Linked DNA regions of Homo sapiens: regions 1, 3 and 4 are each linked to region 2. The links come from fine-mapping of genetic effects on plasma protein levels. A gene starts in region 2. Each other region holds a variant in brackets. All regions are shown on one strand. Distances are from middle to middle.

Region 1 (8,138 bases), 150 kb after region 2:
ACCAACTTTTCACGACAACCATAGCCCAGCCTCCTTCCACTAAGCGCTAGCCTGAGCAGTGAGGATTCTGAGATGCAGCCATGAGGTCGGCACCTGCAGGAGGCCCATTCTGGAGTGGCAAGGCCCCTGGATCTGGGCAACCCCACCCCAAGCGCCATCAGGGCCTTTTTAGTCGCTGAAAGCCACCAAGGAAGCTGGCGAAACCCAGCCCATCCCCCAAACACCCTGTTTGGTTCTGAGCAGAAATCAGCTCAGATTCCCTTCTTCACCATTCCATTCGACTACTCTTTACTTACTTGTTCATCAGAGCCTCCAGAAGCAAAATACTCCCCCGTTCTTGAAAAGGCAACAGTGGTGGCTGGTCCCTGGCAGAACAAACAAAAAATAACACACATCAAAGGTCATTCTCCATTCTAAATGCACAGGAAGAAAACGAGACGTTCTTGAATGAAAGCAGCAGCAGGATAAAGGACCGAGAGCCCACTCAGCCCACAGTCCTCCGTAACCTGTAGCCCAGGAGCCTGCCTGCAGCCAGGTGCAAGCACCACCGCTCAGGCTTCTGTTCCTGAGCACTACAACAGGGACAAGTCCAGGCTATGAGAATGTGGGTGACAGAGATGAGTGAATGGGACAGTCTGCACTGGCAGCCCTCCAGGGCTGGCCTCATTGTCCCCACTTTCCCAGTAAGAAACCACAGGTCAGAGAGATGCACTGAGTCACCCCAGCCACAGCACTGAGACCAGAACTTGGTCCCTTTGACCCAGACCAACCCTAACACCCAACATCTCCCCAACACTGCACAGTTGCTGACCAGAGAAATAGGGATCTCCAAGGAAGAGCCAATGGCTCAAGCAGACAGGGCATAGTTCAAGGCACAGGTGACAGGAAGGAGGTTTCCAAAGGTGCTTGGGCAGCAGAGCAATGTGACACGTCTCTCTAATGTGCATTCACTTTTCTTATGTTCAGGCCATGGGTAGTGATGTGCCCACTCTGGCTTCCCAGATGTTGAAGGTCTGCGTGACCATCTGAAGGGGAATGCCAGGCACACGCCAGGCCGCACTCCAAGGGCTGGAGAGCAGTCCAGGGCGGGGGAGATGGGGGATGCATGATCTCCTAGCAAAGGAGGGTTCTTCCCCACATACCTAAAATCCATCCCAGAAAGGTGCTCAGAGTAAGGATCTGTTTAGCTACGACACCATGACCACAGCCACCACCATCTCTTCCTCCCAGTCGAACTTTTACTGTGGCCAGTACCTGGTATTCCCAAGCAAAATCAGATAAAAGAGGTTCTCTCCTAGAAGACAGCACAGCCACTGTCACCAAGTCCACCTCAGTCCCCCCAGACCAGTGCAGGGAGCGGCAAGAGCCCCAACTGCCCATGAGATGGGCTCTGGCAGCACATCTACAGCTGACTCATCAATGAGAGGAACATTGGGAGGCGCCTTCCACTTAATGCCAGAAAAGACCAGCCAAGTTCTGGGAGGGAAAAGGGACCTCGAGGCCATGGAGGAAGGCAGCTTTTGTCTCCCAGAGAGACAGGCAGGTTGAGAGGTGCCATTCAGCCTCAGACACACTGGACAGCAGGGAGTATGCCCACCCATGCTTCCAGAGTCCACCTTCGGCTCTTCCTCTCAGAGGTGCTCATAACACCTCTGACGAAAAAAGCAAGTACAACACTGGTGAACACCGAGCACTCAGGCGCTCAGAGCACAGCACCTGCATTTACCCACTGAATCCTGAAAGGACAGTCTGTGCGGTGACCCTTTGCCTTAGTCCACTTCTGTTGCTATAATGGAATATCTGAGACTAAGTAATTCATAATGAGCAGAAATGTATTGGCTCACAGTTCCAGAGGCTGGGAAGTCCAAGATCGGGGGCCAGCATCTGGCAAGGGCCTTCTTGCTGAGTCATCCCACGGCAGAAGGGCAAAGAGAGGGTGACAAAGAAAAGCGGGCCAAAGTCATCCTTTTATAAGAAACCCACCCCATGGTAACAAACCCACTCCTGCAAGAATGGCATTAATTCATATATATGGGCATGGCCTCAGGACCCAAACATCTCCCATTATGCCCCACCTCCCAACAACCCACACTGGGGATCAAGTTTCTAATACATGAACTTTGGGGAACACATTCTAATCACACTACCCTTCCTAAGGGTGCCATGTCCAAGTGCAGGGAACAAAGCCTGAGAGGACACAAAGACAAAGCCTCTGGCCTACACTTGCCCTCCTGCCTTCTTCACACAGGTAGAGCTGCAAGGGCCCAGGAATGCCCCACTCCCAGCAGCCCTGGGAATCCTAAGCCACCATTAACCAGGATAATATAGATCCACTTTTACTAACAGAGAAACAATGCCCAATAACATCAGTGAGGGTGAAATCCCAAGTGTAAGACATCACGGGCTGTGTGGCCCCTGCTCATGCAGGGCCTGACTGCAGGATGAGGGCAGGGCATCCATCACTCAGATACCCTTTCAGGTGGACAGTCACCAAGGGGTTAACAGAGGGGTGTGAGGTAATTTCAGGTAACTTTTACTTGATTCTTAGAAATTTTTCATTTTTCCGTTACTTTGAACCTTTTTTTTTTTTTTGAGGCAGAGTCTCGCTCTGTTGCCCGGGCTGGAGTGCAGTGGTGCGATCTTGGCTCACAGCAAGCTCCGCCTCCTGGGTTCACGCCATTCTCCTGCCTCAGCCTCCCGAGTAGCTGGGATTACAGGTGCCCGCCACCACGCCCAGCTAAATTTTTTTTGTATTTTTAGTAGAGATGGGGTTTCACTGTGTTAGCCAGGATGGTCTCGATCTCCTGACCCCATGATCTGCCCGTCTCGGCCTCCCAAAGTGCTGGGATTATAGATGTGGGCCACTGCACCCAGTCACAAACCTTTTTTTTTTTTTTGAGACAAAGTCTGGCTCTATCGCCCAGGCTGGAGAGCAATGGTACAGTCTTGGCTCACTGCAACCTCTGCCTCCTGGGTTCAAGCGATTCCTGTGCCTCAGCCTCCCAAGTAGCTGAGGTTGCAGGCACCCTCCACCACACCCGGCTAATTTTTATATTTTTAGTAGAGACGGGGTTTCGCCATGTTGGCCAGGCTGGTCTTGAACTCCTGGCCTCAAGTGATCCACCCTCCTCAGCCTCCTAAAATGCTAAGATTACAGGCATGAGCCACCGCACCTGGCCTACTTTGAATTTTTTAATAATGAATATATGGCATTGCTACACTAATACGAACACCAAACAACAAAACTACTTTCATTGTGAGGAAAAACAAAGAGGAAACAGAGAAAAGAGAAGGAAACCAGTACATGGAATGTCAAAAAAGATGGGCCTTTTGCCTGCCCAGAGCTCACTGAGTGATGGCAGGTTTCCAAGAAGTCACAGCAACTAAGGGAAAAATACTTGCAGGTCACTCTCCTTTCATGTCATGACTCAACCACCAGAGGCCAAGTTGGGAAAAGGTGGTGGAGTCAGAGCAGCAGCAACAGCAGCAGAACCAACAAAACACTCAGCTCAGCAGGGGTCAGGACCAGAGCGCAGGCACTGGGAGCCCTGCAGATAAGAAGTGCTAGCGCTCCTTTACGAGACCAAACCCCAGGAAGTTCCAGGGATGAAGCGAGTGATAAGCTGTGTGGATCTGCAGTCCTCCCTAACAGTGCCTGTTTACCAAGAGGACCACGCAGCCCCTGCTCCAGGTACCTTCCACGAAGGCTCCTGTTCTTCTGCCTAGCAGCCCAGGGCACTCAGAGGACAGCACAGAGAACACCTGGGCTCTGCTGTGGGCCAAAGCCAACATGTACTGTAGAAGAGACTGTCCACTGCTGACATGCTTCAGGGCCTAGCCTTGGAGGCCCCAGATTACTTCGGCCCCTGCTAACTTTCCAGGCTCTCTCCTCCCTGCCCTAGTGCTCCTCAAACACCATGATCTAGACAGAAAAGGTCCTCTCTTTCTCTATATTCTTTCTGCTGTCACCTGCATTGAGTTCTTAATTCAGGTATTTTCAATTTTTTTGGTTTTATATAAATCAATTTAAGGCTACAAATTTGCCTCTGATGACACCTTCAATAGATCCTGGAAGTTTCCAGTATGCAACATTTTCAGTCATTCACTTCCAAATGTTTAGTTTCCACTGTGATTTCCCCTTCAGCCCATTGGTTGTTTGAGAGTGCATTCTAGAATTTCCAGGCTGGGCATGGTGGCTCACACCTGTAATCCCAGTACTTTGGAAGGCTGAGGCGGGAGGATCATTTGAGGTCAGGAGTTCGAGACCAATCTGGTCAACATGGCGAAACCCCATCTCTACTAAAACTACAAAATTAGCCAGGGGCGGTGGCACACACCTGTAATCCCAGCTACTCGAGAGGCTGAGGCAGGAGAATCGCTTAAACCCAGGAGGTGGAGGTTGCAGTGAGCCGAGATCATGTCATTGCACTCCACCCTGGGCGACAGAGCGAGACTCTGTCTCAAAAATAAATAAAATAAAATAAAGTTTCCAAACCATAGGTGCTTGAAGAGTCTCTTCTTACCATTGCCAGCAGCCAGATATGATACATGTTTTTGGAGACTGTTCTACCCTCATGATGGCTTATTCCTTTTATTTAATCAATCACTCTTCATGCATCAGGGTATCCACTTGGGGCAGGGATATTGCCAAGTCCATCCTCTCCAAAGGCAAGACCTGTCTCTGGGTGTCTCTGCACACCCCTGAGGATTCCTCTGAGCAGCGGCTCCTGGCTGGGCCTTCAGCAGTGTGGATGCCGGCCTGCCCCCAGC[T/C]ACCAGAGGTACCCACCTGTGGGAAGCCCTGGTCTCCCTCTGACTCCAGGCCAGGTCCATTAGCAGGGATGCCTCACAGGCTCAATAAGGGCCTCCCTCCCTCCCTTGAAAGACCAGGCAGAATCTTCAGGGAGATGGTCCTGCTTAACCAGTCATGAACCCAGACACAGCCTGGCCTCCCTGCTACTCTACCTGCTAACCGGGCCATATCTGGCCCTGGAGCTTGGCTGGATCCACACCCAGTCATTTTACCACACATCATCTTCTGTTGCCAATTTCCAGACCTAAAAAGGACCCACATTGCCTGGTTTCTTCAAACAACAAAGTATCAACAGAGAAAGATTTTTTTTTAAGGCAAAACAAGGGAGCCCATGGTGATTAGATTTCACAGTCGTGCTGGCTCTCGCTCTGCTGCTCCGGCAGCTCACACTGACCTCGCTGCTCTCCTCATCCTCCTCACCTTCTCCCGCCTGACTCTCAGAGGCCCCTGTATGCCTGAACTCTGACTGCATGCCCACAACAGCTATGCTGGCAAACCCACCACCACCTCTCACGCGTTGCAAAATATTTTGTGTTGACTCTCATATGCACAGTCTTCCAGTGAACAAATAGGATTGTCACACCACATGCCCCTCAGTCAGAGGGAAAAGCAGAGTGGCCATCACACAGAGAATGGGACTGAGGAGGCCCAACAGGCCTCTGGGGTGAGTGCTGTGGTCTCCAGCCCCTGTGCTCAGACAGAGAGACAACAATCCAACCCACTGGGATGCTTCTTCCAGAGCCCCACCAGGAGGCTCCTGCACTCACTTACCAGGGTCTGCTGTGAACTGGGCTCTCATGGCTGAGTGGGGCCCATAGGAGGCCATCATAACTCCACAGACGGGGAGTGACCTCCTGACCCTGGCCGAAGACACCTGCTCCCAGCCCTCAACTCTGGGCTGCTGGCAGGGGACAGAGGGCCAGGCCAACTTCTTAGTTTCTTAGTGTGAAATAAATGAGCCGTTCTCTCTCTGCATGTCCTCTCACCTCTCACAGGAGGTGCCCGACCACCCAAGCCAGGTGTGACCCTCCTGAGCATCAAAACAGTCCTCCAAAATGCCTAGACAGGAGCTACAGAGCTCTCACAGAAACAAGGGAGGGGTGGCCCACTCCCAGAGCTGCCCTCCACCTGGGGTGGACAGAGGGATGGCCCACTGGCCCAGCCACTGTCACACAGTCGCCTCCCCTGCTTGAAGGTGCATCCCCTTTGCTGCTGCTATCCCAACCTCAACCTAGGGCCCAGCATGGCGCAAGCACCCCATAAGCATCAGTGGGTCTCCTACTCTGAGCCTGCAAGTTCCCACCAACTAAGTCTCAAAGCATAGCCCTGAGCACAGACAGCAGCGCCTGTGCAGGTCTGGGTCCAGGGCAGGGGCTGCTCACCCACACGGGGTCGGGGGGAGGGTGGCGGGGGCGCATGGCACCGTGTGCAGCTCAGTCACTCTACAGCGACATGCACACCAACTGCACAGCCACAAATACCAGATTTAACTCCCCACCCACAACCCGCCCACCATCCTCTCCCAAATAGCTCTAGAGAACTTAAACCAAGTAAGTGTGGCTCAAGATTATGTTTCAGAAAATACAGAAAGATAAATCTGTATTTCTAGCACACTGCCCCCCACGCTTGCCACACATGGGGCTGTGAGGGCCTCACACGGGGCCTGAGGCTCTGAACAACCGTGGTAGTTGGTAGGGAAGCCCTTCCCTCTCCTGACCAGTGTTCCCTTCTATAAAATGAGGGGGTGAGATGGGATCATGAGCCTCCATTGCAGCTCTGACAACCCAAGTCTGTATGACATCCAGTGAGAGGCAGGGACTCCCTTTCCTCCTGCTTAACGTCACAGTTGTGTCACACCCCCTGACCAAGACTTTCCAGAGCCTCAAATAGGGCACTGGCACCAGTGCCACCACGCGGGTCTCCTGATCCACCAGCCATCCTCCAGGAGTCAGGCCCTTGAGATGACTGGAAGGACAGGCCTGACAAAGGGCAGTGCACATGGACATGTACACCAAGGCACCCGGCAAAGCAAACCCACGAGGGCAGCTGGTGGGGACACGAGTCTGGGTCGGGGAGTCTCCCCAGCCCCCAACCAGGGGACAGATTCCATGAGCTGTGTGACAAGAGAAGCCAAAGCAAAATGTTCTGGGGGAGACAACAACCCTAAGCAAAAGTAAAAGGCAGATGAACCCCTGAGAGATTCCGAAGGTGCACAGGAGAGGAAACGCGCGCCTCCAACCCTGGGGCAGAGGCCACAGCCCCATGCCAGAAATGGGGTGGCTAAGGCACCAGACACCCCCATGGACCCGTTTTTCTAACAAATGGACTGCCCACCCACTCAGCATCACCAGGACCATGTCCACAACAGAAACTTCTAATGCCCTTTTAAAGAGCTCTCACCTAAAACGGCATGACATCATTTTCCATGAGCTCAAGTGGAAAGGGATTAATATCTATGAGGACCTACTGTGTCCGGTGCTGGGAAATTTAGACACATCCTCTCCTACCATGAGGCAGACAATGGGATGTCAGTCTCACAGATAAGAAAAGAGACTCAGCAAAGTCAAGGTCTTGCCCAATGTCACATAAAAAGAGGCAACACTGGAATCATCTGACCCAGTGCCCAAGCCCATTCCTCCTCCCCTCCTGAAGCTCAGGCTGTTTCAGATGAACAAGATGGGAGAGGACCCATGGTTTTTCAAAACCAGAAATGGGTGGGTACAAACTGTTTGTTCCTAAAAATACTGGGGTTTTCCTGAGAAAGCTAAGTATCATCCCCCACCAGACAAGGCTGTGTAACCTCCCCAGCTGAACATATCCCAGCACTTGGCCTCAATCAAAGATGTTTGCAAAGGTGACCCATACAGGCTCTGGTGTTCCCAGGGCAAAGGCTGTGGAAGGAGGGCAATGCACCATAACCTGCAGGCAGCACCTCCCACATCTGTCCACTCTCCTCTCAGGATGGGCAGATTTGAGAGGCAGAGGGCCCTTTATCACCCAGAGTCCCCAAGCCAGGACTGCAGGAGAGAAGCACCAGAATTCTTCAGGGCCACAATAAACTTGTAACCAACATCCACCCCTGCTATGGTGTGAATGTTTTTGTCCCCAACAAAATTGATACTGAAATTGAATCCCCAGCCAGGCGTGGTGGCTCACGCCTGTAATCCCAGCACTTTGGGAGACCAAGGAAGGCAGATCACTTGAGGTCAGGAGTTCGAGACCAGCCTGGCCAACATGGTGAAACCCTGTCTCTACTAAAAACGCAAAAAATTAGCCGGGCATGGTGGCGTGCACGTGTAATCCCAACTACTCGGGAGGCTGAGGTGGG
Region 2 (7,502 bases):
TGAGACAGAGCCTCGCTCTGTCACCCTGGCTGGAGTGCAGTGGCTCGTACTCGGCTCACTGCAACCTCCGCCTTCTGGGTTCAAGCGATTCTCCTGCCTCAGTCTCCTGAGTAGCTGGGATTACAGGTGCGCCCCACCATGCCTGGCTAATTTTTGTATTTTTAGTAGAGACAGGGTTTCACCATGTTGGTCAGGCTGGTCTCAAACTCCTGACCTCATGATCCGCCACCTCGGCCTCCCAAAGTGCTGGGATTACAGGCATGAGCCACCGCGCCCAGCTGCCAGGACATGCATTTTTAAATTTAGATAACTACTATCTCACCCTCCAAAAACACTATATGGATTTATCTTCCCATCTGTCATGTATGAAAGTGCCCATTTCCCCATGTCTCCCCCAACACTGGGTATTATTTATTTTTTATTTTATTTTATTTTTTTTTTAGACAGAGTCTCGCAGTCGCCCAGGCTAGAGTGCAGTGGCATGATCTCGGCTCACTGCAGGCTCCGCCCCCCGGGGTTCATGCCATTCTCCTGCCTCAGCCTCCTGCGTAGCTGGGACTACAGGTGCCCGCCACCTCGCCTGGCTAATTTTTTGTATTTTTAGTAGAGACGGAGTTTCACCGTGTTAGCCAGGATGGTCTCGATCTCCTAACCTCGTGATCTGCCCGCCTCGGCCTCCCAAAGTGCTGGGATTACAGGCGTGAGCCACCACTCTCGGCCAAGATATGCTTTTCTAACAGGCATATTACATTACCAGAAAATAGCTTCTGGGCAGTTTTAGGTAGTGTGTGCCAGTGCCAGTGGTCCCCAACTTTTTCCCCCACTGTGGTGGGCAGGAAGTCCTGTGCCCCTTCCCAGTGCCCCTCAGCTGGTACCTGCTGCTGTTCCTAGGTTTTGGGAACTCGGCACCTTCAAAGGAGGCAAGCACAGAGGCAGGGCGGGCAGCGCTGCTGGAGCGGGCGCTGCGGGACCTGGAGGTACAGAATGCCGTGTTGGTGAGCCCCTCGCTGAGTGGCCACTATGCCCTGCCCTTCCTGATGCGAGGCCACCACCAGCTACATGGATTTGTGCCCATCGCACCCACCTCCACCCAGAACTACACCCAGGAGCAATTCTGGGCTGTGAAGGTACTGGGAGAAGGATCTCAAAGGTCCTGGCACCCTGTCTGTGGCTTGGGGGGGTTCAGGACTCAAGTCTTACTTGGAGGGACATGGCCTTATCCCTGACCTTGGATGGAAGAGTTGGATGGTGTTGGGGAAGGCTTCCTAGGAAGTGGCTTGGGGGTCAGAAACTCATCAGGCCCCAAGATCACAGCCCCCTGCCTTGCCCTGCAGACTCCAACCCTTATCCTGTATGGAGAGCTGGACCACATCCTGGCTCGAGAGTCACTGCGGCAGCTCCGCCACCTGCCCAACCACTCTGTGGTGAAGCTACGCAATGCAGGCCATGCCTGTTACCTCCACAAGCCGCAAGACTTCCACCTTGTCCTGCTTGCCTTCCTTGACCATCTACCTTGAACTAACCCACTCCCAGCTCCCAGCCTGGCATGAGCTTGGACAGTCTGGACCGCCACCCTCCCTGAACCAGGGAGACAGCCTCTGGGATTGGAGGCCAGAGGCCAGGGTCAGACCCAGCCAGGACTCCTCATTTCATCTCACAGACACAATAAAAAAGCATATTTGTCCTGCCTGGGAAGTGACAGGTTCCGTTTCCTGGTGTGCTGTGGGAAAGACGGGAGTGGGAGGCAAGTCTGGGACTACTTTGGGCCTGGGAGCTGGAGGGGATGTCCAGCAGTCTGAGAAGGCTAAGAATGCGCCACTTCCTAAGTGCCTGGCCTCACCACTCTGTGCCTGAGTTTCCTTATCTGTAAAACGGGTATGATGGCAACACCTAGGTTGGAGGGTGGTTATAGGACTGAATGAGTCTGGATAACTGAGTACTTGGCCACATAAGGCTGGGGAATTGCTGGTGGGAGGCGGGGTGTATTACTGCTGCTGCATGACCACAGGGATTGGTGGGAAATCCAGGGTCTGGACAGCCAAGCCAAGGAAGTCAGGAACCTAGAGGGTATGGGGAACGCGATTTAACAATTAGCCAGCATTGGCCGGGCGCAGTGGCTCACACCTGTAATCCCAGCACTTTGGGAGGCCGAGGCAGGCGGATCACGAGGTCAGGAGATCGAGACCATCCTGACTAACACGGTGAAAACCCGTCTCTACTAAAAATACAAAAAATTAGCCGAGCGTGGTGGCGGGTGACTTTAGTCCCAGCTACTCAGTAGGCTGAGGCAGGAGAATGGTGTGAACCCGGGAGGCGGAGCTTGCAGTGAGCCAAGACCGAGATCACACCACTGCACTCCACCCTGGGTGACAAAGCGAGTGAGACTCCGTCTCAAAAAAAAAAAAAAAAAAAAAAAAAAAAAAAAAAAAAAAAACCAGCATTAGCTGGGCACTGTGGCTCACATCTGTAATCCCAGCACCTTGGGAGGCCAAGGCGGGTGGATCACCTGAGGTCAGGAGTTCAAGACCACCCTGGCCAACATGACAAACCCTGTCTCTACTAAAAATACAAAAATTAGCCCAGCGTGGTGGCACGCACCTGTAATCCCAGCTACTCTGGAGGCTGAGGCAGGAGAATCACTTGAACCCAGGAGGCGGAGTTTTCAGCGAGCCGAGAAGGAGCCACTGCACTCCAGCCTGGGCAGCAGAGTGAGACTCCATCTCAAAAAAATAAATAGCTAAATAATTAGCCAGCATTGTTATGAGTTAAAGTCTATTTGCCCGCATGAATAAATAGGTAAATAATTAGCCAGCATTGTTGTGAGTTAAAATCTATTTGCCCGCATGACAGAGTGAGACTCTGTATCAAAAAAATAACTAAATAAAGAATTATCCAGCATTGTTATGAGTTAAAGTCCATTTGCCCCCATGTTATGTGTGAGCAGCCAAGACTTAAACCTCAGGAAAGGTGGGACAGAACCCTTCCCACAGCGTGCCTCCTTGGCCTAGAGATTGAAGTCTTTGTCCCTCACCCTTCCCCAAGCTGACTCAGCCCCTGGAGCAGAGGGCAGACCTGGCTGGGAGTACAAAGGGCAGCTGGGGCACAAGTGGGCAACTGCAGCTGTGGCCTGCAGGGGGCCAGTGGTACACCTGTGCCTGTTTAGCCTCCCCCTCTGGTGGCTGCAGAAGAGCCAGTTTCCTCACACTGTCCATCCAGGGTCACAATTACATCCATTCACAGTGACTTCATCACACCCACCCACCATCTCACACTGTCACATACACAATCATATCCACTGATAGACTGCACACGCAGTGGCACGCTTAAACCGTCACACGTGCTCTTGTCCATGCATTCATTCCCATTCTAGGCACTGTCCGGGCTCGGCACGGCCCCGGGCAGAACCTTGCAGGAAGTGGAGCTCACAGCCTCCTGGAGTTCAGTGTGGGCAGACAGACATTGGCCAATAACTTCAGTACAAGTGGAGCTGAGGCGTCAGGGAGGACCTCCCCGAGGGGCTGAGGCCTGCAGTGGGGAGCCGTTGGAGACTTGCCGAGGAGGGCGAGGGCGCAGGCCCAGGGCTTTGCAGCTCTGCATCTTGAGAGCCTCGGGGCGGCCCCCTTTCCTCCCGCCCTATCCGGGGGCTGAAGGAGGAGGCGCCCTTAGGGGACGGGACCGTCCTGAGCTCCCGGCGCATACCTGGGGGCAGGAGTGGCAGGCGTGTCGTGTGGGGCGGGGCGAGCCTGTCAGAGCAGGGCCAGCCCGGAGCTCGCAACTCGCGGGGCGGCGCTGGCCGCGGCGGCCGCTGCCCGGGGACGGGATCCGGATCTAATCCTCCAGTAATCTCGCTGAGGCCCGAACCAGAGGCGGGCGGGGACATCCGCGCCGACGCGGCCGCTGGCGCCGGGACGGCCCTCACTGACGGTCTTCGGTCTCCGCCCCGACATCCGGCCTCGGCCACGTGGTGGGCGGACCGGGGCGGTCCTGAGCCTGCGACCTCGCAGGCGACCTCGCTGGACCCTAAGTCCAGGCCACAGTCAGGGAAGGGCGCTGAGAGGCGAGCGTGAGCCCAGCGACAGGAGAGTGAGGTGGGGGCCCTGGGGAGGGATAGAGGGACTGGGGCTCCGTGGCTTGAAAGCCGGGCAACTGGGAGGCGTTGGGGTTTTTCTTGTTTGTTTTTTGTTTTTGTTTTTGCCTTTTTTTTTTTTTAGGAGGGCGGGGGGAGTACAAGTCTGGGTTCAAACCTTGCTCAGCTACTCTATGAGCTGTCCTTGAACCTCTCTGAGCCTCTCAGCTTTCTCCTCTGTAAAGTGGGCATTCTGAGCACAAACTTCATGGGGCTCTTTTGGGGATTAAATAAGGAAATGTGCTGGAAGCAGACAGCCCAGCGCCTGAAACAGAATGGGTGCTCCTTAATGGGGGCTCCGAAACACGGTATCCTACCCCTGTGGGAAGTCCGGGAGCCGCCGTGGGGACAGGCTGTGTGCAGGAGCTCACCATTTCCAGGGTCTTGGAGGGGTAGTTAGCCATTCACTTTGCCCCCAGCTCACCACGCGCAGCGCCATGACCAGCAAGGGTCCCGAGGAGGAGCACCCATCGGTGACGCTCTTCCGCCAGTACCTGCGTATCCGCACTGTCCAGCCCAAGCCTGACTATGGTGAGAAGACGGTGGTTCCAGAGCCTGTGACGGGGCCTAAGGGACGGGGACTGTGCTCTAAACCAGCCTCCAACCCCTGTCACCCAGCTGAGCCCCACTCTGCTGTCCCAAATGGCTCCCCAACCCCTCCAGCCATTCCCCAAGTAAATAGACTGAGGCAGCCCCTCCAGGTTAGGGAGGAACCCTTTCCCCAGAGACTCTGCTGCTGACCAAGGTTACTCCTGGCAGCTGGTTAAAGAAAAACTTCACCTCACTCTCCAGGGCAGGAGTGGTGGGGGAAGCCTGAGGCAGCCACAGGGAAAGGAGAGGCCCTCCAGAAGCCCACTGGGGCTGGACAAAGGCCACAGCCCTTAGGGAGTCAAGCTTGGTGGCTAGGGCCTGGGAGGTGGCTCCTGCCTGTTATCCCAGCACTTCAGGAGGTTGAGGCTGGCAGATTGCTTGGGCCCAGGAGTTCAAGACTAGCTTGAGCAACATGGCAAGACTCTGTCTCTACAGAAAAAATACAAAAATTAGTCAGGAATGGTGGCACACCTGTAGTCCCAGCTACTCCAGAGGTTGAGGTGGGAGGATCGCTTGAGCCTGGGAGGTTGAGGCTGCAGTGAGCCGAGATCGCACCACTTCACTCCTGCCTTGGTGACAGAGTGAGACCCTGTCTCAAAAAAAAAAAAAAAAAAAGGAAAAGAAAAAAAAAAAACTTAGTGGCTGGGAATTGTGTACATGGGTCCAAATTCCTCCTCTGTGATTAATCAGCTGAGAGATGGTGGGTGAATCTCTTCATGTCTCTGTGCCATAGTTTCCCATATTTAAGGAAGATAACACCTTCCTCCAACCCTGTGTCCAGACATCCCCCTGGACTTCCAGAAAGGGTCACTGAGTAGCCAAAAATATCTTCTTTCTTGGGGATGGAAATGCAAGCATCTCTGAGGGATATGGAGTGTGTCGGGGAGGCAGCAGCCCATTTCTGGGTATGCTCCACTCTCCGGGCTGCCTGGGCTGGTGGGAAGCTGTGGGTAGGCAGAAGCAGCCCCAAGACACTCTGTGCCTCCAGGAGCTGCTGTGGCTTTCTTTGAGGAGACAGCCCGCCAGCTGGGCCTGGGCTGTCAGAAAGTAGAGGTGAGCCTGGGGCCCTAAGCGGGGAAGGGAGGTGGGCCTGGGCACTTCCTCACCCTGCTCAGACCACCTACCCTCCTGACCATCTCCAGGTGGCACCTGGCTATGTGGTGACCGTGTTGACCTGGCCAGGCACCAACCCTACACTCTCCTCCATCTTGCTCAACTCCCACACGGATGTGGTGCCTGTCTTCAAGGTGTGTAAGGGGCTGGGGAGGTGGGCAGTGCAGGCCTTGGGGACAGACATGATGCAGACCCCAGGATTCAACCTCAAGTTGCTCATGGTCCTGGCCCCAGTCCTGACACTAACTCTCAACATCCTTATGACATTACACCACTCAAGCAGCCTTCATCCAGCAGCAAGTTCTGGGCCAGAGTGGGGTGGGGACTGGGGGGTGGGAAGCAGGAGACAGCAATGGGGGATGGCAATCAGCTGCCTTCTTCAGCCCCCGTCTTTCCTCTCCCACCACTCCACCTGTCACTCCAACCCTATGGTGGGCTCCTAGGGCAGGGCCACTGTTGACCAGAGTGGATTAATGGCTAAATTTGGGGTTTGGGCCCCTCTTCCCATCCCTGCCCCCAGGAACATTGGAGTCACGACCCCTTTGAGGCCTTCAAGGATTCTGAGGGCTACATCTATGCCAGGGGTGCCCAGGACATGAAGTGCGTCAGCATCCAGTGAGTGTCCTCCATTCCTACTCCTCCACAATGTCCCCACTGGTCCAGTGGATTGAAGCAGGACCTGAGGGGGTGATTGGAGAAACTCAAGGCCAAGGAACACCGTGACCTCTTGGACAGGAACTACTGCCATGACCATTGCATGGATAGGGAGATTCAGACCAGAGAGGGGCAGGGACTTTCTGGAGTCCCTATCAGGGTGTGGCAGGGTAAAGTCCAGGACACAGGACTCCAGCCTGCTGGCCCTGCCTGTGGGGCCAGCCTGCGCATCTGGTGGCTCCCCCAGCACCTGGCTTATGCCCCCTCAGGTACCTGGAAGCTGTGAGGAGGCTGAAGGTGGAGGGCCACCGGTTCCCCAGAACCATCCACATGACCTTTGTGCCTGGTAGGAGTGGCTCAGATACCTTTGGGAAAGGGGAGGGTGGGGCGGGGCAGCCTCCTCATCTCACGTCCCTGCTGCTTTTACAGATGAGGAGGTTGGGGGTCACCAAGGCATGGAGCTGTTCGTGCAGCGGCCTGAGTTCCACGCCCTGAGGGCAGGCTTTGCCCTGGATGAGGGTGAGCAGGTTGGCAAGCCAATGAGCAGCCAGGCAGGGAGTAGGAGGCTGCTAGTGGGGACTGAGCTGCTCCACCCTCTGAACCCCCTTTCCCTCCTCAGGCATAGCCAATCCCACTGATGCCTTCACTGTCTTTTATAGTGAGCGGAGTCCCTGGTGTAAGTATGAGCTTGGAGGGAGGGCTCACTCTACAGGCGGGAGGCTAGGCCAGAAAGGGCACGGTCCTATGCAGGGTTGCACAGCAAAGTTGAGGCCTGAGAAGGCCTTGAACCCAGGGCCTCTACCTCCCAGCTCTTTCCTATCTGAGCTTCTCTGAGGGCAAGCCCTGAATGGGCAGAAACCAGCTGTATGCTACGGGCCCTGAGTGGGGACAGGACCCTGCCAGAGGAGCCTGGAATGAGGGGGAGACCTGGGCCCACCCCAGGCTGATTGTGTCTCCAGCCCCTCAGGCTGAAGACACTGCCTTCCCCCTACACCTCCCCAGGGGTGCGGGTTACCAG
Region 3 (8,138 bases), 1.3 Mb before region 2:
TGAAGCTTTGCTTCTTTACCCACTGCTCACCTCCTGCTGTGTGGCCTGGTTCCTAACGGGGATAAAGCAGGGTTGGGGAGCCCTGCTTTATCAGATAGGTGACTTGGAAATATTTCTCCCATTCTGTGGTTGTCTTTTCACTCACTTGGTGGTGTCTCTAGATGTACAAAAATTTTAAATTTTGATGAAGTCCAATTTATCTGTTTTTTTTCTTTTGTTTGTACTTGTGGTGTCATGCTACGAAACTGTTGCCAAAGTCAGGATCATGAAGCTTTTCCCCTATGGTTGTTTATAATTTATTTTTATTGTGGCAAAACGTACGTAACATAAAATTTGCTATTTTTACCTTTTTTTTTTTTTTTGGAGACAAGGTCTTGCTCTCTCTCCCAGGCTGGAGTGCAGTGATGCAGTTATAGTTCACTGTAGTCTCAAACTCTTGGGCTCAAGTGATCCTCTGCCTCAGCCTCACCAGTAGCTAGTACTATAGGCATGTGCCACCATGCCTGGCTGATTTTTTAAATTTTTTGTATGGATGGGGTCTTGCCATGTTGCCTAGGCTGGTCTCAAACCCTTGGCCTCAAGAGACCCTTCTACCTTGGCCTCCCAGAAAGCTGGAGTTACAGGCATGAGCCATTGTGCCCTGCCCATTTTGAAGTATATAGTTCCATGGCATTAAGTATGTTCACATTGTTGTGTAACTGTCATCCACTGTCTATCTCTGGAATTTTTTCGTCATCCCATACTGAAATTCTACACCAGTTAAATGAAAACTCTTTATTCCCCCTCACCCCCAACCCCTGGCAACTACTGTTCTACATTCATTCATTCGTTCGTTCGTTCATTCATTCATTCATTCATTCATTCATTATTTTGAGACAGAATCTCGCTGTGTTGCCCAGGCTGGAGTGCAGTGGTGTGATCTCGGCTCACTGCAACCTCTGCCTCCTGGGTTCAAGTGATTCTCCTGCCTCAGCCTCCCGAGTAGCTGGGACTACAGGCAGGCACCACCATGCCTGGCTAATTTTTGTATTCTTAGTAGAGATGGGGTTTCACTATGTTCGCCAAGCTGGTCTCAAACTCCTGACTTCGTGATCCACCCACCTCGGCTTCCCAAAGTGCTGGGATTACATGTATGAGCCACTGTGCCTGGCCTCTACTTCCTATCTCCGTGATTTTGACTATTCTAGATAACTCATATAAATGTAATCATATGGCCGGGCGCGGTGGCTCATGCCTGTAATCCCAGCACTTTGGGAGGCTGAGGCAGGTGGATCACGAGGTCAGGAGATCGAGACCATCCTGGCTAACACGGTGAAACCTCGTCTCTACTAAAAATACAAAAAAAATTAGCCAGGTGTGGTGGCGGGCACCTGTAGTCCCAGCTACTTGGGAGGCTGAGGCAGGAGAATGGAATGAAACCAGGAGGCGGAGCTTGCAGTGAGCCGAGATCGCATCACTGCACTCCAGCCTGGGTGACAGAGCGAGACTCTGTCTCAAAAAAAAAAAAAAAAAAGTAATCATACAATGTTTGTCCTTTTGTGTCTGGCATATTTCACTTAGCATGAGGTCTTCAGGGTTTATCCATGGTGTAGTCTATGTTAGAACTTCGTTCCTTCTTATGTCTGAATGATGTTTCAGTGTATGGGTATACCACATTTTGTTTATTCCTTCTTCTGCTGATGGACACTTGGGTTGTTTCTACCTTTTAGCTATTGTAAATAATGCTGCAGTGAACACTGGCATGCTAGTACTTGTTAAGCTCCCTGTTTTCTATTTCTTTGGGTATATACCAAGAAGTGGAATTGCTGAACAATATGATAATTCTGTCTTTAGTGTTTTTAGGAGCTAGTGTACTGTTTTCTGTAGTGGCTGTGCTATACATTCCCACCAGCAGTGCACAAGGATTCTAGTTCCTCTGCATCCTCCCCAATACTTGTTGTTTTCTGATTTTTGATCATAGCCTTTCAAATAGATGTGAAGTGGTGTCTCATTGTGGTTTTGATTTGTATTTCCCTAATGATTAGTGATGTTGAGAATCTTCTCATGTGCTTATTGGCCATTTGTATGTCTTTTTTGGAAAAATGTCTGTTCGAATCCTTTGCCCATTTTAAAAGTCAATCTAAAAAGTTTTTTTTTTTTTTTTTTGAGACAGAGTCTTGCTCTGTCGCCAGGCTGGAGTGCAGTGGCACGATCATAGCTCACTGCAGTTTCAAACTCCTGAGCTCAGGGGATTCTCCCACCTCAGCCTCCTGGGTAGCTGGGACTACAGCTGTGTGCCACTGTGCCTAGCTAATTTATTTTTTATTTTTTAGAGGTAATAGTCTTGCTATGTTGCCCAGACTGGTTTTGAACTTCTATCTTCTAGAGATCCTCCTGCCTCGGGGTTCCAAAACATTGAGATTACAGGCATGAGCCACTGTGCCTGGCCTCAATTTTGTTTTTGTTTTTGTTTTTGTTGTTGAAGTGTAGGAGTTCTTTATATCAGCAGTCTTCAACATTTTTGGCACCAGGGACTGGTTTCGTGGAAGACAATTTTTCCATGGACCGCAGAAGGGATGGTTTTGGGATGAAACTCTTCCACCTCAAGATCATCAGGTATTAGATTCTCATAAGGAGCGTGCAACCTAGATCCTTCACATGCACAGTTCACAATAGGGTTCATACTCCTATGAGAATCTAATGCCACTGCTGATCTGACTGGAGGCAGAGCTCAGGAGATAATGCTTGTTCACCCACTGCTCACCTTGTGCTTTTGCGGCTTGGTTCTTAACAGGCCACAGATTGATATTAATTTGTGGCCCAGGGGTTAGGGACCCCTGCTTTATATATTCTGGATATTAATTTCTTATCAGATATATGGTTTGCAAATATTTTCTCTTATTCTGTAGCTGTTTGCCTTTTCACTGTGTTGATGGTGTCCTTCGATGCATGAAAGTTTTAAGTTTGATGAAGCTGATTTATCTTTTTTTGTTTTTTTTGTTGCCTGTGTCTTTGGTGACATATCTAAGAAATTATGGACAAATCCAGTGTCATGAACCTTTCCCTGTATGTTTTCTTCTAAGAGTTTTTTAACTTTAGATTTTATGTTTAAGGCTTTGATCCATTTTGAGTCAATTTTCGTATGTGTTATTACAAGGGTCCAATTTTATTCTTTGTGGATATCCAGTTTTCCCAGCACCATTTGTTGAAGAGACTGTCCTTTTCTCATTAAATGGTCTTGGCACCATGGTCGAGTATCATTTGACAATATATGTGAGGGTTTATTCTGGGCTCTGTATTCTGTTTCATTGGTCTATATAGTTCTGTCTTTATGCCAGTATCACACTGTTTTGATACTGTAGGTTTGTACTAAGTTTAAAAGTCAGAAGTGTGAGTCCTCCAACTTTGTTCTAATTTTCCAGATTATTTTTGCTATTAGAGGGCCCTTGAGATTCCATATGAATTTCAGGATGAATTTTTAAATATTTCTGCAAAGAATACAGTTGGGATTTTGGTAGGGACTGAATTGAATCTGTAGATTGCTTTGGGCAGGATTGTCATCTTAACAATGTTAAGTCTTCCAATCAGTTAACATAGGCTATCTTTATTTAGGTCTTTAATTTCTTTTGGCAGTGTTTTGTAATTTTCAATATACAAATTTTTCATTTTTTGGTTAAATTTATACCTAAGCATTGTATTTCTTGATGCTAGTATAAGTGGAATTGTTTTCTTCCTTTTCATATTGTTCATTAATTTCCTTTCCTTTTTTTTTTTTTTTTTTTTTTTAAGACAGAGTCTCACTCTGTCGCCCAGGCTAGTGTGCAGTGGCATGATCTCGGCTCACTGCAACCTCTACCTCCTGTGTTCAAGCCATTCTCATGCCTCAGCCTCCCAGGTAGCTGGGACTGCAGGCACCTGCCACCACACCTGGCTAGTTTTTTGTATTTTTGGTAGAGATGGGGTTTCACCATGTTGGCCAGGCTATTTTCAAACTCCTGACCTCAGGTGATCCTCCCACCTTGGCCTCCCAAAGTGCTGGGATTACAGGTGTGAGCCACCGCACCTGGCCTTCCTTTTCATATCATTCTCATGTTGTTCGTATACAGAAATACAACTGGTTTTTGCATGTTGATTTTATGTCCTGCAACTGCTGAATTCATTTATTAGCTCTAATAGGCCTTAAACAAATACTTTAAGGTTTGCTACATACAAAATTGTTGGCCAAGTGTGGTGGCTCACGCCTGTAATCCCAGCACTTTGGGAGTCTGAGGCAGGAGGATCACCTGAGGTCAGGAGTTTCAGACCAGCCTGGCCAACATGGCAAAACCCTGTCTCTACTAAAAATACAAAAAATTAGCCAGGCGTGGTGGCGGGCGCCTGTAATCCCAGCTACTGGGGAGGCTGAGGCATGAGAATCGCTTGAACCCAGGAGGTGGAGGTTGCAGTGAGCTGAGATTGCGCCACTGCACACCAGCCTGGGGGATAGAGCGAGACTTTGTCTCCAAAAAAACTAAAAAAAAAATAAAAATAAAAAGAATGGTAAGAGTTTCTAATACTTAGAGGCAGATATCCTTAAAAATGGAGATTTCCTTTATAGATTTAGATTTCTTTTACAAAAGAGTTTCAGGATAGCCAATTAAATTCCAGAAAAGTGTATTTTAGTTCAATAGGGTATTCTTTTTAACATAGCTACTGTTTCTTAGCTAAAATTACTGAGTTCAGAGTAATGGGTGGAGCGCATTAAAGAATGGGGCCAACAGGCTGGGTGCAGTGGCTCA[C/T]GCCTGTAATCCCAGCACTTTGGGAGGCCAAAGCGGGCAGATCACTTAAGGCCAGGAGTTTGAGACTAGCCTTGCCTGCATGGTGAAACTCTGTCTCTACTAAAAAAATACAAAAATTTGCTGGGCGTGGTGGTGCATGCCTGTAATCCCAGCTACTTGGGAGGCTGAGGTATGAGAATCACTTGAACCGGGGAGGTGGAGGTTACAGTGAGGCTGAGATCACTCCACTGCACTCCAGCCTGGGCGGCAGAGCCAGACTCTGTCTCAAAACAAACAAACAAAAAAACAAATGAAAAACAAAAAAACAAACAAAAAGAACTCAGTATAAATAGATCTGAAAAAGAAGCAAGCCTATTTTACTTGAGGGCCTACCTTCATAAATACCTTATATAGGATAGCTTTCTTTTTCCCTTTGGGGCAGGCTAGTAACTAAGCCGAAAGGTTAGCAGATTTAATTTTGTTTTAAATCAATTAGTCACTTAAGGTTTTTATTTGCCTTTGATAACGTCTTTAGATAAAAATAATGCAATCTTTTTAGAAGCTTCTACATATCAGTAGGCATCCCTAGATAAGACTAATTTGGGAGCCCCCAATCACATGCACTTCTGTTCAGTGTTGTTCATTCGGATAAGCACTGTAACTTATCTTTAGTAAGATTTCACCATTTCTGTAAGACTTTGCTGCCTCCAGGGCTTAATACTTATGCATGTATAAGCCAGAAGGAACTCAGTTCTTCACAAATTAAGGAGCCTGTTTTTACCTCAAATACTGGCTTTGCTCTCAGGTTCCCCTGATCAACTTAGCTAGTGATTTTTTTTCTATCTAAGTGCACAAGAAAAATGAAACAAAGAGGGTAGAATGCACAAATCCCTGTGAATTTCCAAAAGCCAAATTTTATACCCCCTCCAATATTGCCATTTACTACTGGTTTCTTTCTGACCCAGTCAGATGTAAGAGGCCTCTAACTGGATCCAGCCCAATTAATATCAGATGTAATCTGATCCTAGACCTAGTCCAGTTTCTGTCATGACCTCCAAACCCAGTTTGGATCAGAAATTTGCTCAAAGAGACTCAAAGAGCGCTAAGCACAAATCTGTGGAACTTTGGAATGCGAGAGAGAACTTTCCACAATCCTCAGCTGTTCTGAGAGAGGAATGGACACAATGGGCCTGGTGGGTATCTCGCTTGGTCACTCAGTGCTCCTGGGGGTCGCTAGAAGCTCTACTTCGGATCCCACTTCTGACACCATCTGTTAAAAGAAAAACTTCAGCTGAATTCAATTTAAAAGACTGTAATTGAGCAAAGAATGATTCACAAATTGGGCAGCCTTCTGAGCCAGAGTAGGCTCAGTGACTCCAGCACAGCCATGTGGTAGAGGAGGATTTATGGACAGAAAAAGGAAAGTGATGTACAGAAAATGAAGTGAGGTACAGAAATAGCCAGATTGGTTATAGCCTGGGGTTTGTCTTACTTGAACACGGTTTGAACAGAATCAGGTCCTTAAGGCATCAAGACCTCTGTGTCTCCATTTGATATCTCTGTGTCTATGTGTTGCATTCTTTCTTGCAGTCATTAACTTTTAAAAATTTACTCCTTTTATAATTGGGGACCATAGCTCCTACAGTTCTGGGTACATGTTTACACAGCATGATGGAATAGGAAAGAGCTGTTTCCAGTCAGAAAAACTTCAGGGAATGAATGGTATGGCCCAATCTACTTCATATGCCCAGTTATTGAAGGGGTCCGATTGACAGCCCCACTGAAATCACTAGAGTGGGGGAGTTTTTGTAAAAGGTGAGAGTTAAGGATGCTGGACACAGAACAGTAAGGAGATAAGACTACCTGATGCACATCGAGTTCACAAAGGTATTGTAAATGTCAAACATGTACAATGGATAGAAGTAGGATGTGCTGTAGGAGTTCAGAGCCTGGGGGCGTGCAAGGCAATATCCCTAAGAGTGAAAGTAGAACTGAGTGTTGATGAGTGAATAGGATTTTGTGAGTGAAGAAGAAGCATGAGAGCAAATTCAGGTCACAGGGGACAGTAAGGCATGAAAGATTTGTGCAAGGTGTTTTGGGAGGACCATGTTATTTGCAGCTACCATCTTCCCTTTAATTTAGTGATACTTTTTTGGGGGTGGGGTGGGGTAGGTGTCAATTCCATTTTGAAGATCTGTTAAGTGCTATGGGAAACCCGCATATGCACAAGTAAAATTTTACTAGTCGTGTCAGAATGTTTATGGACTTCTTGTTGCTTGTCTTTGGACTCAGGTTAAGAATCTCTACTTTAAACATTTCAACTTGTCTTTTTTCTCTACATTGTGTGTATACTTTTTAAAGCCTACCTTTAAAGCTCCTGATTTTCTGACACATAGCACTGAATTTTTTTTTTTTTTTTTAAGAGAGAGTCTCACTAACTCTGTTGCTCAGGCTGGCATGCAGTGGCGCTATGTAGGCTCACTGTAACCTCCACCTCCTGGGTTAAAGCAATCCTCCCCCTTCAGCCTCCCGAGTAGCTGGGATTACAGATGTGCACCACCATGCCTGGCTAATTTTTGTATTTTTAGTAGAGACAGGGTGTCACCATGTTGGCCAGGCTGGTCTCAAATTCCTGACCTCAAGTGATCCACCCGCCTCAGCCTCCCAAAGTGCTGGAATTATAGGCGTGAGCCACTGTGCCTGCCCATAGCACTGAATGCTAGTTTCAGAATTTATTTCTGTCGTTTACTTAATTGAAATGAAGAGTTTAAAGGAAAATGCAAGTCTGGGCATGGTGACTCATGCCTGTAATCCCAGCATTTTGGGAGGCCGAGGTGGGTGGATCACCTGAAGTCAGGAGTTCGAGGCCAGCCTGGCCAAAATGGTGAAACCCCGTCTTTACTAAAAATACAAAAAATTAGCTGGGTGTGGTGGCGGGTGCCTGTAATCCCAGCTACTTGGGAGGCTGAGGCAGGAGAATCACCTAAGCCCAGGAGGCGGAGGTTGCAGTGAGCCGAGATCGTGCCACTGCACTCCAGCCTGGGCAATAAGAGCAAAACTCCGTCTCAAAAACAAACCAACCAACCAACAAACCAACCCCAAAAATGAGCCGGGCACAACCTTAGCCTCTAGAAGATTGCTTTTGTGTCTTGTTTTGCCATTTCTTCTTTTATTATTGTTATGGACTCATGGGTTTTTGTTTATTCAGTGTGACTCAGCTCATCATTATGATTATAATTCTCAAATTATTCTAATGCTTTTAAATTTCTTCTGTGATGGTTTCCTGTGACTGGAGAGACACCTGTTTTTGTCTGCTGCTTTGTTGTGATAATTGATTATATTTGGTCTTAGGTCCTAAAGTCTGTGCTATTTTAATTTTTTTGAGGTAAAAATCAGTTATAT
Region 4 (8,138 bases), 4.7 Mb before region 2:
GAGCACCATTTTTGGTTTCCCTGAGCCTGTTTTCCATCTGTGAGTGCGTTACTACTTTACAGGTTAAGAAGATTCTGGAGAATGTGTATAAAAGGCCTAGCAAAACACTTGACTCACTGATGGTAAATAAATGATAGCTGCTGCTGTTGTTTCTGCTTGTCTGAACAATTAGGCCCGTGGAGTCTCTTTCTATCTAAAACAAGAAAAAATCTCAGCATTTTGGGAGGCCGAGGCAGGTGGGTTGCTGGAGTTCAGGAGTTCAAACCTGCCTGGACAACATGGTGAATCCCTGTCTCTACCACAAAAAGTACAAAAATTAGCCAGGCATGGTGGCACCTGTAGTCCCAGCTACTTGCAGGGCTGAGGCAGGAGGATCGCTTGAGCCCAGGAAGTCAAGGGTGATGTGAGCCGTGTTCACGCTACTGCACTCCAGCCTGGGGGACAAAGTGAGACCCTGTCTCAAAAAAGAAAAAAAAGGAAAAAAAAAGACAAGTATAAGAGTTCCCATACTAAAGAAGCCATCTGTCCGTGTTGTGTTTTTTTTGTTGTTGTTTTGTTTGTTTTTTGTTTTTTGTTTTGAGACGGAGTCTTGCTCTGTCGCCCAGGCTGGAGTGCAGTGGCGCAGTCTCGGCTCACTGCAAGCTCCGCCTCCTGGGTTCACAGCATTCTCCTGCCTCAGCCTCCCAAGTAGCTGGGACTACAGGCGCCCGCCACCACACCCGGCTAATTTTTTGTATTTTTAGTAGAGACGGGGTTTCACCGTGTCAGCCAGGATGGTCTTGATCTCGTGACCTCGTGATCTGCCTGCCTCAGCCTCCCAAAGTGCTGGGATTACAGGCGTGAGCCACCGTGTCCAGCCCTGTCTGTGTTTTTTAAACTCTAATTCTGTGACTTCAGTGCCTTCCTTGTGACCAAAGTTGAGATAATGCCCTGGACACTCAACCAGGAATTTCAGTGGTGGAACGTCTCAAACAGATTTTCAGTGCCTGCACTCCTGTGATGGTTACTTCTCACCTTCTGACAGTTACTTTACAGAACTACCCAGAGAGCTCATTCCACCTGACGCACAGAGCACCAGGCCCAAAAGGCAGGGACCTTTGAGGATAATCTTTCTTCTTAATTTTATACCTTTAGAAGTTGAGTCCCAGAGAAATACAGTTTCCAACAAAGCTGAGGTTAAGAATTTGTTTTCATTCTGTGGCTCTACCCAGAACCAGCCTGAGAATGATCAAAGATAACATCCTTTCTTCCTCTAATTTTTTTTTTCTTTCCTTATGCCAAAGGCTTCACCCAAAAAACTGCCTGGGTGTGCGCCAGTTTGCTGAGACAATGATGTGTGCTGTGCTGTACGACGCTGCCAACAGCTTCATCCACCAGCACTTTGTGGAGGTGTCCATGTCAGAAGAGTTCCTGGCCCTGCCCTTGGAAGACGTGCTTGAGCTGGTGTCTCGGGATGAGCTGAATGTCAAATCTGAGGAGCAGGTATGTGAGCCCAGTAGCAGTCTGTGCAGGTGACATGAGATGCTGCTCTTTATAGTCATTGTTTTGTTTATGTATTTTTTTACAAAGTTAAGATCATGACATGTATGTGGCTGTTGTATATTATTGGGCTTGTTTTACTGTATCATGCATTTTTCATGAAAACTTTCTATGTTTTATTTATTTTTTTGAGATAATATCTTGCTCTGTCACCTAGGCTGGAGTGCAGTAGCAAGATCATAGCTTACTGCAGCCTCATCCTCCCACATCAGCCTCCCGAGTAGCTGGAACTACAGGCACATACCACCACACCCAGCTAGTTTTTGTATTTTTTGTAGAGACCGGGTTTCACCATGTTGCCCAGGCTAGTCTTGAACTACTGTCCTTAAGTGAGTTCAGCCTCCCAAAGTGCTGGGATTATAGGCGTGAGCCACCGCACCTGGCCTCCATACATTTTAGTGTCTAAATAGCATTCTGTTGATTTTTGTCAACCTACTCACCTTATTCTTGCATGTTTGGGTTATTTCCAATATTTACTATTAGAAATAATCCTCCTGTGAACCAGAAACAGCAAGCATAGATAATTTTTTTGTTGTTTTTTTGAGTCAGAGTCTCATTCTGTCACCCAAGCTGGAGTGCAGTGGTGCGATCTTGGCTCACTGCAACCTCCATCTCCCAGGTTCAAGCAATTCTCCCGCATCAACCTCCTTGAGTAGCTGGGATTACAGGCATGCACCACCATGCCAGGCTAATTTTTATACTTTCAGTAGAGACGGGGTTTCACCATGTTGGCGAGGCTGGTCTCGAATTCCTGACCTCAAGTGACCCGCCCATCTTGGCCTCCCAAAGTGCTGGGTTTACAGGCGTGAGCCACTGTGCCCGGCCTAGTATAGATAACTTTTTGAAAGAATCTTGTTCTAAGGAAGAACAGAACATTGGGGCAGCTGTGGGAGGGGTCTGTGAAATCAAGAGGGGTTGTTGTTTGTTTGTTTTTGAGAAAGAATCTTGCTCCAACGCCCAGGCAGGCTGGAGTGCAGTGGCAACAATCTCAGCTCACTGCACCTCTGCCTCCCGGGTTCAAGCAATTCTCCTGCTTCAGCCTCCCAAGTAGCTGGGATTACAGGTGCCCGCTACCATGCCTGGCTAATTTTTATATTTTTAGTAGAGATGGGGTTTCACCACGTTGGCCAGGCTGGTCTTGAACTCTGGCCTCACATGATCCTCTCACCTTGGCCTCCCAAAGTGCTGGGATTATAAGCATGAGCCATCATGCCAGGCCTTTTTTTTTTTTTTTTTTTTTTTGTGAGACAGAGTCTCACTCTGTCACCCAGGCTGGAGTGCGATGGCACAATCTCAGCTCACTGCAGCCTCAGCCTCCCAGGTTCAAGCATTTCTCCTGCCTCAGCTTCCCAAGTAGCTGGGATTACAGGTGTGCGCCATCATGCCTGGCTAACTTTTGTATTTTTAGTAGAGACGGGGTTTCACTATGTTGGCCAGGCTGTTCTCGAACTCCTGACCTCAGATGATCTGCCCACCTCGGCCTCCCAAAGTGCTGGGATTACAGGCGTGAGCCACTGCGCCAGGCCCGACCTTTTTTTTTTTTTTTTAAAGTGAGAGAAATTACAGCATATTTGACTGCTGTTGGGAGTTTTCCAGAAGAGAGGGAAGAATTGATAATATTGGAGAAATGGGAGAGCAGTTGTTGGAATGATGTTCTGGAATAAGTGAGGACAGTCTAGGGCATAAGGGTGTGCATCTTTGATAGGAGCACAAGCCATCCATATCCACAGTAGCAGGAGGGAGAGCTGGGGCACACGCCCAGGGACGGGGGACAGGTAGATTCTTACTGAAATTCTCTTCTGATTTTCTATTTTCTCACCTGAGAGTGAGGATGAGGGACGAAGGTTAGAAACTTAAGGAAGGCCGGGAGCAGTGGCTCACGCCTGTAATCCCAGCACTTTGGGAGGCCAAGGTGGGCAGATTTGTTGAGCTCAGGAGTTTGAGACCAGCCTGGGCAACATGGCAAAACCCCATCTCTACTAAAAGCACAGAAGTTAGCCAGGCCTGGTCCAGCTTAAACTCCTGGCCTGTAATCCCAGCTACTTGGGCTGAGGTGGGAGGATTGCTTGAGCTGGGAGGCAGAGGTTGAGGTGAGCTGAGATTGCGCCACTGCACTCCAGCCTGGGCGATGGGGCAAGACCCTATCTCCAAAAAAAAAGAAAGAAAGAAAGAAAAGAAAAAAGAAATTTGAGGAGGGATTAAAAGGTATGATTTATTTTCCTCTTTCCTCTAGAAAAGGGGGATGCTAGAGAGGTGAAGCGGGCTTGATAGGAGCCTGGGAGAAAAGTGGATCCTGGGCTTGGCAGCATAGACACTGTGGTTTCGAGGAAAAAGCCTCATTCCAAAAACTAGGTGTCCTGTCCCTAGCTCTTAAACTAATTAATATGACGGGGGGCGGGGGGGCAGCTCACATTTCTTTGAGTGATACATTTCATAAGGGCTGTAGGGCTTTAGAGGGAGAGGTCCTTGTGGTTGGAGCCATTAAGAAAGGCTCCTTGGAGAACATGGATCTAGAGCCAGGCCTTAAAAATAGGGGAGTGGGTTTAGATGAAGAGGAGGAGATGAGGGCATTTTAGATGAGGGGGGACAGTGTAAACAGGAGAACCAGCCCAGCCTTGCCGGAGTACAGAGAGGGTGATGGAGGGAGTTTAGAGGGAGCAGGGGTACAGGAGCAGCGGGAAGGGAAACAGGCATTTTGTTTTCACAGAAAGTAATAAGATGCCATTGATGATTTTTCACTAGGAAATCATAATCATAATGAAATTCAGGAAGCTGTTCTAGTAGCCTAGGAAGTAGAGAGAAATCAGGGATTTCAGAGACAAGTAGGAGAAAAGATTGATGGGCCCAAGGGACTGCTTCAGTATAGGAAGTGGAGGCATTGAGATTGGAGGCCTGGGGTGTGGCCTCTGGGTGGGAGGATTTGCTGCCAGAACATCCACTCTCATGACAGGTCTTTGAAGCTGCATTGGCCTGGGTCAGATACGACCGGGA[G/A]CAGAGGGGTCCCTACCTGCCTGAGCTGCTGTCCAATATCCGCCTGCCCCTCTGTCGGCCCCAGTTCCTTTCAGACAGAGTACAGCAGGATGACCTGGTGCGTTGCTGCCACAAATGCAGGTGAGTGAGGGTGGACCTGCACAGGACACTGCCAAAGGTCTAAGCAGGGAAGAGGAGTTGGCCACCTGTTCCAGTTCTGGAAAGAAAGCATTTAGAGTGATCAGTCTAATTCATGGCACACAGATTGGTCTGCCCTCTGTCTAGAAGCTGGAACAGGAAGTGTGAAGAGCCCGAATCTTATGCCTTGGGCAGAGAGATGTGCCATGTGGGAGCATCAAAGCAGAAAGGGCTTTCCCCTGCTGAGTTATCTGAGGATTTTCCAGCATCTTTCCCCACTGAGCTATTTATGAATGTGCAACCATCTTTACTGCCTGCTCTGACCCTGTCCACACCAGCAGCTCACTCAGTGGCGCAAATGGGACTTCCTGGGGCTCATTGCCCTCTTCAGTAAATATTAGTCAGTGCTGTGGGCATGGAGGGCCTCTGCCAGGTGTAGGCTTTACATCTACGATGATGGGCAAGGGGCAGACATGTTTACCAACACATGAAACTTTTACCCAGAGCAAATCAATGACAACATGGTACAGCAGAGTTACCCAAACAGTTCAGAAGATGGCAGCCCTATAGGATGATTGCTGTAAAAGTAGAACAGCAGAGAAAAATGTTCATTCTCCTCCAGATTGCTTATCAAATTCACAACCCTGAAATATTTTTTTCTCCTTTGCTGATAAAAACTTTACACACATTCAGCTTTCTTTCATTTTCCAACTCCTGGTTGGGATCAGCTGGTTCAGGAGGAAGTAAGTGCCTGTCCATGGCAGATGGTGTGAAGGTGTGTGTCAGGATGGGGTGGAGTAGTGTCTGGAGGTAGCTAGGGCCCAGTGACCAGCGGTCTCAAGGGTGCTGTTGAGGAGTTTGGACTTTATTCTGTCGGCAGTGGGTGGCTATTGAAGGTTCTTAGCTTGAACTCTAGTGTGGAAGTGGAATGGAGGGGCAGGCCTGAGGCAGGGAAATGTGTCAGGAGCTGCCACCGTGGAGATGAGTGGTGATTAATTGCAGGTTGCAAGCCACGGTGCAGTCGTAGGGATGGAAAGGAAGGGCTAGGTCTGAGTGGCAACAGGGTGCATGCTGCTTGTCGAAACTCCCAGGTCCAGCCATTTTGGCCACTACCTTGTTTTTCTCATGCCTAATCTACACTAGCTGAGGTGGTCTTTGCTTGTCTTGCCCCTTTAATTTTGAGTATATCTCAGTAGCCATGTATGATTTTCCCAGAACTCACCTGGTTTCTTTGAGACCAGACCTTCCAGAAGGCTTCTCCTCCCAGGTTTCCCCTGCAGTTGGCAGTGGAGAGCCAGGCTCAGAGATGCAAACGAGGACTAAGTCAGGGGGATACCTCCTGTTCTAGCATCTTCCACCTTATTCTAGGGACCTGGTAGACGAAGCAAAGGACTACCACCTCATGCCAGAGCGCCGGCCCCACCTGCCAGCTTTCAGAACCCGGCCACGCTGCTGCACATCCATCGCTGGACTTATCTACGCTGTAGGGGGCCTCAACTCAGCAGGTACCTTGCGGCTCCCCTTTATAGACCCTCCTCTTGGACTCCATGGATGAGGAAGCACCAGACAAATTAGCCTGGCCCTTCTGGTTTCTCTGTTTTGTACTGTCACCACCCTTGCCCCTCTTGATTTTATACAATTGCTCTACAGTTAGAGCATGTCACATATTCATGCCATTGAATCAGAATATCAGTGCTAAAGAGACCTTCTAGAAATCTTTGAGGCCTAGCCTTCTTACCTGACAAGTGAGGAAATTGAGCCCCACAGAACTTTCACTATGTTCATACAATTGTTTTTGGCAGAGCAAGGACTAGAACTTGGGTGTTCTGATTCCTGAGCCAGCACTTTTGCCCTAATATCACATTGGCTATGGTATAGCATCCTTCAGCCCCGGATAGGATACAGTCAGAGACCCAGTTCCATACCAGGCTATTCACATTTTGTCATATGGATCTCTGGGGTTAGACTGAGAAAGTCCCCAAGAGAAAGATTATCCAAATACACAGGGTCTACCACTGTCAATAATACTTTTTACTCTTCAGCCCCACCCCCTGTGAAACACACACATGCTTTACAGTCCGTGGGTTATTGGCAGTTTTTGAATCTAAGAGTAAGGTTTTCAGAAAGCTGCATGGCCTCCCAACTTGGGGGCAGTTGGTGGGCACTCCCAGGCAGTTTTGTTTTTATTTTTTATTGTTTTTAATTTTTTTGAGATGGAGTGTCACTCTTGTCACTCAGGCTGGAGTGCAGTGGCGCAATCTCAGCTCACTGCAACCTCTGCCTCCCGGGTTCAAGCAATTCTCCCGCCTTAGCCTCCTGAGTAGCTGAGACTACAAGCTCATGCTACCACGCCCAGCTAATTTTTCTATTTTTAGTAGAGATGGGGTTTCACCATGTTGGCCAGGCTGGTTTTGAGTTCCTGACCTCAAGTGATCTGCCCACCTTGGCCTCCCAAAGTGCTGGGATTACAGGTGTGAGCCACCGCACCTGGCCCAGTTTTGTTTTTAATTGAAGGTTAATGAGAGTTGGGTACTAGCTGCTGCTTGTTAATCAGAGGGCCTGGAACAGGTAAATCCTCAACTCAGTGCACGCTGGAGCGGCGTGCAAATGAAATGCTAAGTGCCCCATAGCAGCATACCACAGGAAGAGGGGGTTATTTTGTTTGATCATCACAAAAACCTGATGAAAAAGGTAGGGCTGGAATGATCATTCCTTGCTACTATGACTATTTATTGAGCGCAAAGTTTATTCTAGAACCATGCTAGGTGCTTTACCTGTTATATCATTTAATCCATAAAGATTATCTCCATTTCACATGTGAAGCAGAGGGTGGGGACACAAAGCCCCTTGCCTTGGGTCACCCCCTAGCAAATGAAAGCACTGGAGCGCATGCCCGTCCCTCTGGCATGCCTCCTGCCTGGAGGAAATATTGTATCGATTCACCTATACCTTTGGCTTTAAGCAGGTGGAGTACCTGATTGTAACTGAAAACTACCCTCTCTAAAAAATAAATACCTCCTGTCTGATTCTGATTTTCCTTAAAGAATTAGGTTTGAGGTGATCATGGCTGAAATTTCTTAGTGGGCCCTTGTGCCTTGAGTAATTCTGTGGGAAGAGCTAATAGAATTGAGTCGAATGTTCCATATAATCAATGCCCAATAGCTGTGCTCTAAACAAGTGGTCTCATTTGTTTTAATTTGAGTAGCAAATTTTTATGCAGGTGATTCCCTGAATGTGGTGGAAGTGTTCGACCCCATTGCCAATTGCTGGGAGAGATGCCGTCCCATGACAACAGCCCGCAGCCGCGTTGGCGTGGCTGTGGTGAACGGGCTTCTCTATGCCATCGGAGGATATGACGGCCAGCTACGGCTGAGCACTGTGGAGGCCTACAACCCGGAGACAGACACATGGACCAGAGTGGGGAGCATGAATAGCAAGAGAAGGTATTCTGGAAGCCACGTGCAGCCCGAACATACACACTGAGCACCTGG

Direction of the effects. Alleles are on the strand shown, and positions count from the first base shown. The strength of an association depends on the size of the effect and on how common the allele is.
With allele C in place of T in region 1, the plasma level of the protein whose gene starts at base 4,034 in region 2 is lower (moderate association).
For the plasma level of the protein whose gene starts at base 4,034 in region 2, allele C in region 3 goes with a higher level than allele T (moderate association).
As copies of G replace A in region 4, the plasma level of the protein whose gene starts at base 4,034 in region 2 goes up (moderate association).

Evidence for each region. PIP is the posterior inclusion probability: the model's chance that the variant is causal. Protein levels are from antibody-based Olink assays in UK Biobank. Linkage for the fine-mapping came from a reference panel and not from the study's own genotypes, which makes the PIPs less certain.
Region 1: its variant is fine-mapped to the plasma level of the ACY1 protein (UK Biobank, PIP above 0.99).
Region 3: its variant is fine-mapped to the plasma level of the ACY1 protein (UK Biobank, PIP above 0.99).
Region 4: its variant is fine-mapped to the plasma level of the ACY1 protein (UK Biobank, PIP above 0.99).

What each region holds. Positions count from the first base shown.
Region 1 is chr3:52,124,817-52,132,954 of GRCh38, forward strand. POC1A (POC1 centriolar protein A) reads right to left here. Exons shown (of 11, transcript NM_015426.5): 8 at 297-365. Among named protein-coding and RNA genes, the nearest start is that of POC1A, 26 kb to the right of the region's middle. The variant T/C (reference allele first, on the strand shown) is at 4,771.
Region 2 is chr3:51,979,502-51,987,003 of GRCh38, forward strand. It overlaps ACY1 (aminoacylase 1), which reads left to right and starts at 4,034. Exons shown (of 15, transcript NM_000666.3): 1 at 4,034-4,088; 2 at 4,546-4,657; 3 at 5,706-5,770; 4 at 5,860-5,964; 5 at 6,351-6,445; 6 at 6,754-6,830; 7 at 6,914-7,003; 8 at 7,104-7,160; 9 at 7,487-7,502. The coding sequence starts at 4,564. It overlaps ABHD14A-ACY1 (ABHD14A-ACY1 readthrough), which reads left to right. Exons shown (of 17, transcript NM_001316331.2): 4 at 4,546-4,657; 5 at 5,706-5,770; 6 at 5,860-5,964; 7 at 6,351-6,445; 8 at 6,754-6,830; 9 at 6,914-7,003; 10 at 7,104-7,160; 11 at 7,487-7,502. It overlaps ABHD14A (abhydrolase domain containing 14A), which reads left to right. Exons shown (of 5, transcript NM_015407.5): 4 at 892-1,127; 5 at 1,335-1,695. The coding sequence ends at 1,517. RefSeq lists an enhancer at 1,664-2,165 and a silencer at 3,619-4,068.
Region 3 is chr3:50,689,789-50,697,926 of GRCh38, forward strand. All of the region lies in intron 1 of DOCK3 (dedicator of cytokinesis 3), which reads left to right. Among named protein-coding and RNA genes, the nearest start is that of MIR4787, 19 kb to the left of the region's middle. The variant C/T (reference allele first, on the strand shown) is at 4,758.
Region 4 is chr3:47,328,668-47,336,805 of GRCh38, forward strand. It overlaps KLHL18 (kelch like family member 18), which reads left to right. Exons shown (of 10, transcript NM_025010.5): 4 at 1,284-1,482; 5 at 4,490-4,650; 6 at 6,016-6,152; 7 at 7,868-8,090. Among named protein-coding and RNA genes, the nearest start is that of PTPN23, 48 kb to the right of the region's middle. The variant G/A (reference allele first, on the strand shown) is at 4,531.